Linked DNA regions of Homo sapiens: region 2 is linked to region 1. The links come from fine-mapping of genetic effects on gene expression. A gene starts in region 1. The other region holds a variant in brackets. All regions are shown on one strand. Distances are between the middles of the regions.

Region 1 (5,392 bases):
ATAACCCATTTTTTCCCCAAATCTATTAAAGCTATGTTGATTCGATTTTTCCTCTACTGTACCTTCTTCCTCTCCCTTAACTCAGGTACTCTAAATCCCTTGCTTGGACGACTACAGTGCTCCTCTAATTCTTCTTACTCTAAACCTCTATTTGAACCTACACAAAGTCAGCTAAATGCAAATCTGATTGTGTTTCTCTTTGTTGTTCTCCAAAAGCTCCCTATCACCTTCATGAAAAATTCCAAAGTTCTTGGACCTATATATAAACCATTCTATAATATAGTTTGTTTTTTCAACTTTATTTCTTAACATTTCCCTGTATGAATCCTATGTCCAGACGCACTAAGATAATTATAAACAGAACAACCCGTGATGTATCATACCATTATCTCTTGGCACATGCTTGGCTAACTCTACTCATCCTTTCAGGGCCATCTCAAGCAGTTCGTTCTACCTTGAAGCCTTTTCTAACCTCCACTAGATGACTTGATGACACCTTCATGAGTACATGATAAGTGTCTTCTCTACATTTCTGTAACTCTCACGCCTGGCATGGTTCTTAGAATATAGTAATGATTTAATAAAAACCTCCTGAATTATTCCCTTGGAGAAAATTCTCTGGGGTAGATATGAGGACAAAAGGCATATGCATTTTTATATCTTTTAGTGCATTATAGAAAACTTGGCTCCTAAGGGGGTTATACAAAAGTATATGCCATTAGAAATGTATTATGTACCTAAGTTTCAAAATCTCATGAGCATGGGGCAGTACCTTTTAGAAACACAAGGTACAAAACTATGTTTTATTATGTATGTATTAGCAAAATACAATTTATTTATTTATTTATAGACAGGGTCTCACTCTGTTGCCTAGGCTGGAGTGCAGTGGCATAATCTCGGCTCACTGCAACCTCCACCTCGCAGTCTCAAGCAATCTTCCTGCCTCAGCCTCTTAAGTAGATGGTACTACAAGCATGCACCACAACACACAGCTAATTTTTGTATTTTTTGTAGAGATATGGTTTCACCACGTTGCCCAGGCTGGTTTCGAACTCCTGGACTCAAGCAATCTGCCTACCTCGGCCTCCCAAAGTGCTAGGATTACAGATGTGAGCCACTGGGCCCAGCTGAATGGGTTCACTTCACTTTCTATAGTAAAAGTAAGATCCCATCAGTGAGCCTGGGGGGAAAAAAAGACAGGTGGGTGGGAGTGTGTGTGTTTGTGCTGTTTGTTGGAACAGACCTGTCAGGGCATCCAAGTCTTATCAAGTGGTAAGACAGTCTATCGAGTGTGATGGAAGGTGACAGAGACCTGGCAGAGGCATTCATAGGAAAAAGAAAGAACCCTGTTCCTGTTTAGGTGAAGCTGGAAACCATCAATCTTTAGTGGTACAATCTGTATTGTTTTGTGATTTTTCTTTGACAGCATTTTTATTATTCGCATGAAGGAGTAAAGGAGCAGGACTATAGTAGTTATTGAGTGGCTGAGGCAGAATGATTGGGGTACAAATAGCCAAAGATGTTGGTGAGAGAAAGTTCAAATAGTTAAGAATAGGGTATAAACTGGAGAGGAAAGGAGAGGCAAGGTGGGTGCTAGGATAAAATGGGAGGGTTGAAGGGTAGAGATATTTATGAGGAAAAAAAGGCAGGTATAAGGGGACATGAGAGACCTTCCTTTTTTTTTTTTTTTTAAATTCCATTTCTATTTGAACTCTCAAAAGAGAAAAAGAGATTGAAATGACAGAACTTTAGCTAATTTTAATTAAATAAACTTCATAAGGTTTTGTTGTTTTATAACCTTTAGAGTCAGAAAATTCTGACTCCAGTGAGAAAATGTCTTCAACAGAAAGCCAGATGGCCTCTGAGTATCATGTTCATATTTGAAATTGAAATGTAAATGTTACCACATACTTGCTTATTTTAAGGCTGTGGTCCTTTCATTTGCTTTCTTTCCTTTTTTTCATTTAGTCATGTAAATTTGAGCACCTACTCTGTGCTAGGTATCCAATGGGAAACATTATAGACACAAAGAACATTCCAATTAAACTTATATAAAAGGTACTTTAGTGTTTTTCCAGCTAGCAAACATAATGTTCTTGATTTAGTGTTATAATCTTTATTATGTTCAAAAATAATTCCTCTGTTCCAATTTAAATATATATTATCTAAACATATATATACACACATATGCAAACTAGCAAAAATATATATAAACCAGCACACACACACACACACACACACACACACACACACACACACACACACATTGTTGGATTTTATCAAAGTCTATTGGTCATCTATTAAAATGTTCATTTATAACTTGCCTAATTTTAACTATATATTTAGCCTTTAAGGATCTTTTTTAGTGTTGTATTTCTTTATAGGAAATGTCATTCTAATTCTGGAATAGAGTCTATTTGGTTGTGTTCATTCAAAGTATTGCTGGATTCTATTTATGAATATTTTCTTTGGCATTTGTATCAAAAATTTATACCACATAAAATTTAAAAAATGAGGCCTACAACCATTTTATTAATGAAAATAACAGAAAATACACTCTCAATGAGCCATTTACAATACTTCCCTATTTTCTGATTTAGAGATAAATCAGGGTCGTGTAATAGCAGTTGTGTCCAAGAAAATATAATGTCAAGAGGCCAGAATTAAATCCATACAGAAAATGATTGTGTTCATTTCAGAGTAACCTTTAAGAGGGCAATTTTGGGGAGCAGCAAGGGCAAAAGCCAAACTGAATGGGGTTAATAATGAATAGATGAGAGGAACTAGAAGCAGCTATTGCAAGCTACCATTTTGAGAACCTGCCCAAAGAAAGAAAAGACTGAAGGGATGGAAGATTGCAGAAAGCATGATCGGAGAAGAGATATTTTACTTTTAGTGAAGCTCTATACACATTTGTCTTCCTCACTAGATTTGTATCCCTAGAACCTAGAACAGAGTCAGCCAAAGAGCAGGCACTCAATACAAATTGTTGACTTGCTGCTAAAATTGTAACAGAGTACAAAGAACATCCTAGAAATTGGAGACAAAGGGGATAAGAAAACAGAGTTAACTTGGAAAGAGAAGACACTCATCTCTGACAAGACTGAAGATGATTACACAACACCATCATTGCCAACCAAGTCCTTTGGGAATACAAAGGTTAAATCCTAATCATCACAACAGTCTCTAAAGGAATAAACCTGATTTACAGATTTTGATAACAAAATACTTCTCCTCTTTCCATTTTCTACAATGCAACCAACAGCAACATCAAAGGTAGGCTTAACCAACTCTTCGAGAAAAGTCAGAGTTAATCCAGATTGTAAAGCGTCCAGGTCCCCTGTTTCTCATTTCCTCTTTTCTGTCGCTCTGACAACAGACTGGGCAGAGATGGAAAACAAAACAACTTACCAAACTGTGTAGCCTTTAGCAGCTCTGGTAAATGCATTTAGGGCTGTGTTAGGATAACTGTTAAAACGGACTCTTTAGGATAGCAAAACATTTTACTTATTTGTGTAATTTCTCTCTCCAAGTAGTACGATAAATCAGGAAGTAGTTAATATGTAAGTAAAGAACATAATGGCATAAAAATATCCCCACAGAATACACAGTTGATGTGTTTTAAAATTCACAAAAATTTTACAAAGTTGAAGAATGGGAGTAGGATAACAGGGTGATGGGGGGAAGCAGCCACAGAATTAGATAAAATGGTATAATTTCAGGTCTAAGGTGAGACACGACAGTTGCTAAAGGAAATATCTGCACTAAGATGACTTGCTAGTTTTGATCACCCTGCGTCAAAGGTAATGGGAATCTAATTGGAAAAAGATGGGCCCCGTTTTCAACATCGCTACCCTGGCAGCCACAGGCTGGGAAGGATACAGGTAAGAGCCAGGTCGGTGATGCCCGCCGCTCTCCCGAGGGCCGAGGGGGGCTCTGTCGAGGTTGTCCGATGATTCAGTGCCCAGTTCCCCGACCGCGCTCCGGGTTCCGGGCCTCCCCGCCAGCATCCTTCACTTCAGCGCCGCCTGTCTGCTCGCCCCCAGAACCTCCCTCATGGCAGCTCCGGCTTCCTCCTCCTCCTGCTCGGCCCCTCCCTACACTCCGTCTCTCAGGCCCCGCGTCACGGGCGCGGAAGGGTTGGCCTCGACAGCCCTAGCTCCCGCGCAGCGGCACTGGTGCCTGTAGCGGCGATGGCAGCTGAGGCAGCGGCGACCTCGCCGGGCAATAGCAGATGGGGCGGCAGCAACCCTGCAGCCGCCATCTTGACAACAACCGACGGCGCGTCCTTGACAACGGAAACCTGGGAGGAGCTACAGGTCGGGGCGGGACGATGTGCCCGAAGCAGCCAATCGCAGGCTCCGGCGGCCCCTCCAGCTTCGAGCGGCGGGTGGCAACCCAAGCATCCCTAGGGACCCGGGTTGTTGCGCGAGGGGTGAGCTGAGTGTTGTTTTAGAGCCTGATGCAGTTCTGCCTCCCTTTTTATGAGAGTGTTTTTGTGGCAGTACCGACAGTGACGAAAGACAGATGTAAAATCCTCAGATACAGGCAATTGCCACCGGGAGGAGTCTGCAGTGATTGTCTGGGGGACAATTTGGAGTTGAATTTGTTAAACTACTGAATCCTGTTGTGAGATTTTGAGTTGTGAGTCTTTCTGTGGCATCATCATCCCCAAACACCGTCTCTTTAAAATGTCTTTGTGAAGTGGAAATTTTCCTTCCCTGCATTCTCTCATCCACTCGGTAATGCTTCTGGCATTCCCTCTGCAGTCGTCTTCCTTGCCTTTGCCCTACTTAGAAGGTCTACATTTCAAAGCCTCCTAATGGTTCTCGCATTGCTGCCAGATTCTGGAAATGGACCATCACAGCAAAACTAGCAATCTCTTGGGAAGATATGCCAAAAGAGATCATCGCATTGAAATGGTTTTGGGAAGTATGGAAAATTAAATGGATTTTTGAGACACTAGTTTATTGGCTATGCAAGTGACAGTTTTGAAAAAGGCTGAATCTTATTGTTGGAGCCTAATGTAAATGCATATATAAATTCTGACTGTATTTCAGTCAGTGTTTTCTTGGAAAAATTCCCAGATTGGAAGCAGAAAGTACAGACCAAATAAAGATTATTCACCCACCATTCAAATGTCTCTGCCTTTGTGAATTAATTTGTTCATTTTAAGATTTCAAATAATAAACTTTTCCAGTTGAAACTGTTTAAAACAATCTTTGCAAACTTGGTTGCAATGACTCAAATTGGAATGTACACTGGCGACAGATTTTAAAGTGCCACAACAAATCCAGTTTCGATTTAAGACACAAAACACATGAACTCTCCTTCAGAAGCATACCAACAGGATAAAATATACAATTCTGACATGAAAAGCTAAATGTATACA
Region 2 (5,392 bases), 25 kb after region 1:
ATATAACACATAACTGATAACAGGATAGATTAGGAATAAGAAAGCTGGCCAAGTCTTGAGTTTTGAAACTTTGTTATGATCATTGTACTACCTCATGCTTCTGAAGTGCTTTATAGTCTCTAAAACAATTTGCCTTATGTAATCTCAGTTGATTCTTTGGATAGAGAGCCTGTGGAGTAGGCTGTGAAGGCATTTTCATTTTCATGTTCAGAGAGGCTGACATTTAGAAGTGACAGACTGTTAGAGATGATCTCTAGTCATCTCACTTTACAGGTGAAAAAACCTGAGTGATAAAGTGACTTGCCCAACGTTCCCAGATCACGTCACCTGAGCCAAGGCAAGAATCCAGGCTGACAGAACAACAAGTTTAGTGTTTTTTCATTATACTTTGATGCATCTGCTCATTTCCAAATAAATTTAATTTGTCAGAACTTCAAAATACTTGATGTTAAACTTGCATTTTAATGCTGAAAATGTAAAGGCATTTGAGTTAAAAAGCACTAAATTCAACTCCCTTGTTGCTGTTTGTGGTACTTGTTCATTATGTATATTTAGTGTTAGAAATCAAAAAATAAATGATATATGTTCCCAGGTCTTTAACTGCTCCCAATATAAAGGGGAAGATAAGTAACACTGGAAATACAGAATACTGATAGAACTTTTGGGGTCAGAAAGAGGGTGAGAATGATTTCAGTTGATTGCACCCAAAAAATATTCATGGAAAAGCAATTTTTAACAAGCTGTTAATGTTAGATTCAACATGGGAAGCTTTTTAGAAGTATATATTCCTGTAGAATCTGATTCAGTTATTTTAAGCCAGATGGATATGTTGGCATACTTGTAGTTGAGAACCACTGATCTAGTCTTGGAAGAATGGTTAGGCTTTTAGCAAATGAAGGCTGACAAACAGAGCAGCTTAAGTTAAGGCATAGAGGGAGGAAAATTATAGGTCACAGAGAGTTGTCTGACATGGTTGGAATCTATGATACCTGAGGGGTTTACACTTGTGATATTAGGTGAAAGTCTGAAATTCCAATCATGATCTATAGGGAAAAGTTTAAAAAGTTACAATATATGATTTTCAATGCTTGCTCTCTAAAAGTGCAAAGAACTATCTAAAGGTGGAATATACTATATTAGGAAAAGTTTATGTGGGGATTCTCTGAAAGATGACTAGGATCTAATTAAAGGATAATATTGATAATGGCAAAAGTTTTTTCGTTACAAAAGTCTCAAATTTTGCCATACTGTACTCTACATTTTCCCAACAAGGTTATGAAGTAACTTTCAACTGTTGATCACATAATGTAATCAAAAGAATAAAAGAAAAAGGTGTCAGCAGAATGTAATGATAGAAATACAGATAAAACCAATGGGTTAAATGTGATCAGGTGTTTGGTAAAGGCAGGTCACAAATTTGGCTTTGAGCTTGGAGCAAAAACAGAGATATGAATTTGAATATTTGAGCAACACACTTGTTCCACGAGAATCCCAACTATTCCTGATTATAAGACTTGAGATAAATGTCTCTGGATTCTTAGGGAAAAGAAAAGTGTTATGTTCTCCAACCACACTCTCACAGAAAACATGATGGCTATATTATAATAGGCTATTTTTAAGGAAATAAGCCTATGCATATATTTTTTAAATGAATTAAATAAAATCTCTTGAGGAGCTTATGTGCTATATGATCCTTCTGGTGGTCGGACTTTATCTAGGGAGAGTATCCATGGAGTGATCACATTGTTTAGGCAATGCTCCATGGGTATTGTCTCTCACTGGAACTTTGGAAAAGTATCACACTGTGTGGGTGTTGGAGATTATATATTCTCTGAAAATACCTACAATGTGTGTGTTTTGTTTCCCATGAAGTGCAGAGTCAGAGACTTTAATAATCAGCAGAACTGGGGTATAGGATAGGCCACCACTGCTAATGAAGTTCTTCAGGCTCTTTCAAAAGATTTATCTCAAGAGATGCCAAACTTTCAGAAATAATGAAACAAACATAGAGCTTGGTTTCTCCACAGATTGCATATGGCTTCTTTTTTAAATTAGTGTTTCAAACATTAGCCAAAGCTTACATATAGGTGAAATGGAGGCATTATGGGTTTACTTAGAATCTTTAACTTTATGGAATTTTATGAAACAAAATATGACTCCTGCTCCTGCCACTGAGTTAACTGGGTCATCTTGGACAAGATACTTAATCATTGCAGGGTTATTGTAAATACGAGGGATACCATACATACAATGTTCAGGCCAGAAGCAGTGGATCACGCCTGTAATCCTAGCACTTTGGGAGGCCGAGGTGGGTGGATCACTTGAGGTCAGGAGGTCAAGACCAACCTGGCCAACATGGTGAAATCCCATCTCTACTAAAAATACAAAAATTAGCTGGGTGTGGTGGTGTGTGCCTGTAATGCCAGCTACTTGGGAGGCTGAGGCAGGAGAATCGCTTGACCCTGGGAGGTGAAGGTTGCAGTGAGCCGAGATCATGCAATTCCACTCCAGACTGGGGGGACAAGAGCAAAACTCTGTCTTAAAAACAAAACAAAACAAAATAAAACAATGTTCAGTAGAAGCCCTTTAAAAACGGTATTGTCTTAACTACTATCCAATTGGTCCATAAATCATGTGAAGAGCCGTGAAGAAAAGGTACACCTCAACAGTATATCTGAATTTTTCTTGAGGGCATTTGGTATTCTGTATAAAGTTGATGGCCCCTAGAAAAAAACCCCAACTTCTGTAACTGTAAATCTAAATTTCTTAAAGGTAAAAGTTTCTCTAGCTAAAGTGACATAAATGGTAGTGGTAAGGAAACCTACCCTGTGTAAATTAATTTTTTTCCTAAATTATCAATTATCATATTGGTCTGTCCAAATTATGACAGCTCTGTATGCTATAATTTTTGGCCTAAATTATCTGGTTTTGTCTACACAGCAAAACTCCATTTTGGACTGTGACTTTTATATCAAATATTTATTTAAAGATGTCTGTTGTGTTGGGGAACTCATCACCAGATTGTGGCATGTTGAATCTT[C/T]GAGTAGGAGAATTTTAACATGATAAACAGTAGGAAAATAATTTAAACCCTATTTCCAGATGTGGTGCTCTTGCCTAATATGCTGGTAATGATTAATTAAAATAATAGAAATTTCCTTTAAATTCGATCATTAAAAATTTTTTTCCCAGGTGATGCATTCCGGGGTCTCAAAAAAGAAGATAATCAAAATGCAATGCCTTTTAGCACATCAGATGTTGATAATGATGGGTGTCGCCCTGCATGCCTGGTCAATGGTCAGTCTGTGAAGAGCTGCAGTCACCTCCATAACAAGACCGGCTGGTGGTTTAACGAGTGTGGTCTAGCAAATCTAAATGGCATTCATCACTTCTCTGGAAAATTGCTTGCAACTGGAATTCAATGGGGCACGTGGACCAAAAACAACTCACCTGTCAAGATTAAATCTGTTTCAATGAAAATTAGAAGAATGTACAATCCATATTTTAAATAATCTCATTTAACATTGTAATGCAAGTTCTACAATGATAATATATTAAAGATTTTTAAAAGTTTATCTTTTCACTTAGTGTTTCAAACATATTAGGCAAAATTTAACTGTAGATGGCATTTAGATGTTATGAGTTTAATTAGAAAACTTCAATTTTGTAGTATTCTATAAAAGAAAACATGGCTTATTGTATGTTTTTACTTCTGACTATATTAACAATATACAATGAAATTTGTTTCAAGTGAACTACAACTTGTCTTCCTAAAATTTATAGTGATTTTAAAGGATTTTGCCTTTTCTTTGAAGCATTTTTAAACCATAATATGTTGTAAGGAAAATTGAAGGGAATATTTTACTTATTTTTATACTTTATATGATTATATAATCTACAGATAATTTCTACTGAAGACAGTTACAATAAATAACTTTATGCAGATTAATATATAAGCTACACATGATGTAAAAACCTTACTATTTCTAGGTGATGCCATACCATTTTAAAAGTAGTAAGAGTTTGCTGCCCAAATAGTTTTTCTTGTTTTCATATCTAATCATGGTTAACTATTTTGTTATTGTTTGTAATAAATATATGTACTTTTATATCCTGATCAGCTGCATTCTAAAATACGTCTTTATCTGAACTCTTTTTGAACCAGTAGGAATGGTTTGTAGTTTACATGAAGGATGGTCGATAAAACAGTGATGAATCAATTCTAGATATACTCTAGGAATAAGCTGGTCCCCTCTACTTTTTCTACAAAGGTGGAGGGAATTGGATGGTAAGGATTCCTTAGGAGAGGACAGCAGGGAACATGCAGGGCCAAGTGTCAGTTACTGATAAGAGAGACAAGGGAAATGATCAAGAATTAGTTTTGAATAGAAGGTACTTTGTCCAGAGTTAGGGTTATATAATACTCAAGGGAGGGGAAAAGTGGCTGAAAAATTAAGTGGGAAGAGGATTGAATAAAAGTAAGTTTGAGGATATAGATGTCAGGGTGACATAGCTAAGCCCAGAATAGAACCAGAATCTGATTTGGGTTCAGGGATGGACAAAAATGATAATAAGGTCGTCATTTAAGGTGCTTTCACTTTGATATCCTCTGAAAGCAGTGAATACATCGTGAACAGGATTACATGAGATGATTACATGAGATAAGATTGCAGGAGGGTGCACATGGATTCCCATGGTCTCCAATGCATATCACAGAGGCACAGCTGAGGTTGTATCTTGGCAGTGGAGTCAGATGCGTGCCAGGTTGGAGAAGCACAGAACTGCCTTTTATATCGGTAATGATATGAGCACCACGAGGCAAATTCCCCTACAAATCAAGGCAATAATTTTGTTGCTTAGCAAGCCAATCTGTTGTTTTGAATCTGGGCCTTGAAATCTTTGCTGAGCTGGGACAGAGGCAATCTCCCTTATGGTACTGCAAGAGATAGGGGCTTCACATTTTTATCCCATCTAAAGCCTATGGAAATGATGGAAAAATTGAGGATGAAAGCAGAATGGGAATCAATGGAATACTGAATGGAAAGATGGACCCAGAGAGCAGTGAGAAATTTTAATTTTGGGGGGCTTTGGAGTGGAAAGATATATTTGACTTATAATTGACTAACCATGGACAACATTACTTCCAGGATGCCTTGTGAGATGCTTTAAAAGTATTAAGAGGTCTCAAACCCTATTGCAAATGAGAAGGTATATTTCAGGTCATAATCCTGAGCCTCAGATACTCAGACCTGACTCTTAGGAGATGTTAAGGGATAAGGGCAATTGTCTTTCGTTCCCTTCCTTCCTTCTTTCTTTTTCTTTCTTTCTCTTTCTTTCTTTCTTTCTTTTTTCTTTCTTTTTCTTTCTTTCTCTTTCTTTCTTCTTTCTTTCTCTT

Which allele goes with the higher level. Alleles are on the strand shown, and positions count from the first base shown. SD is a standard deviation of normalised expression in the study named.
With allele T in place of C in region 2, the expression in transverse colon of the gene that starts at base 2,773 in region 1 is higher (small effect, 0.21 SD a copy in GTEx).

The links. PIP is the estimated chance that this variant, and not a neighbour inherited with it, causes the effect.
Region 2: its variant is the best candidate, but not a certain one, in a credible set for the expression of ANGPTL5 in transverse colon (GTEx, PIP 0.73).

What each region holds. Positions count from the first base shown.
Region 1 is chr11:101,913,903-101,919,294 of GRCh38, reverse strand. It overlaps ANGPTL5 (angiopoietin like 5), which reads left to right and starts at 2,773. Exons shown (of 9, transcript NM_178127.5): 1 at 2,773-3,276. CEP126 (centrosomal protein 126) reads right to left here and starts at 4,285. Exons shown (of 11, transcript NM_020802.4): 1 at 3,883-4,285. The coding sequence starts at 4,010. RefSeq lists an enhancer at 4,267-4,366.
Region 2 is chr11:101,889,396-101,894,787 of GRCh38, reverse strand. ANGPTL5 (angiopoietin like 5) reads left to right here. Exons shown (of 9, transcript NM_178127.5): 9 at 3,190-4,114. The coding sequence ends at 3,509. Among named protein-coding and RNA genes, the nearest start is that of CEP126, 23 kb to the left of the region's middle. The variant C/T (reference allele first, on the strand shown) is at 3,041.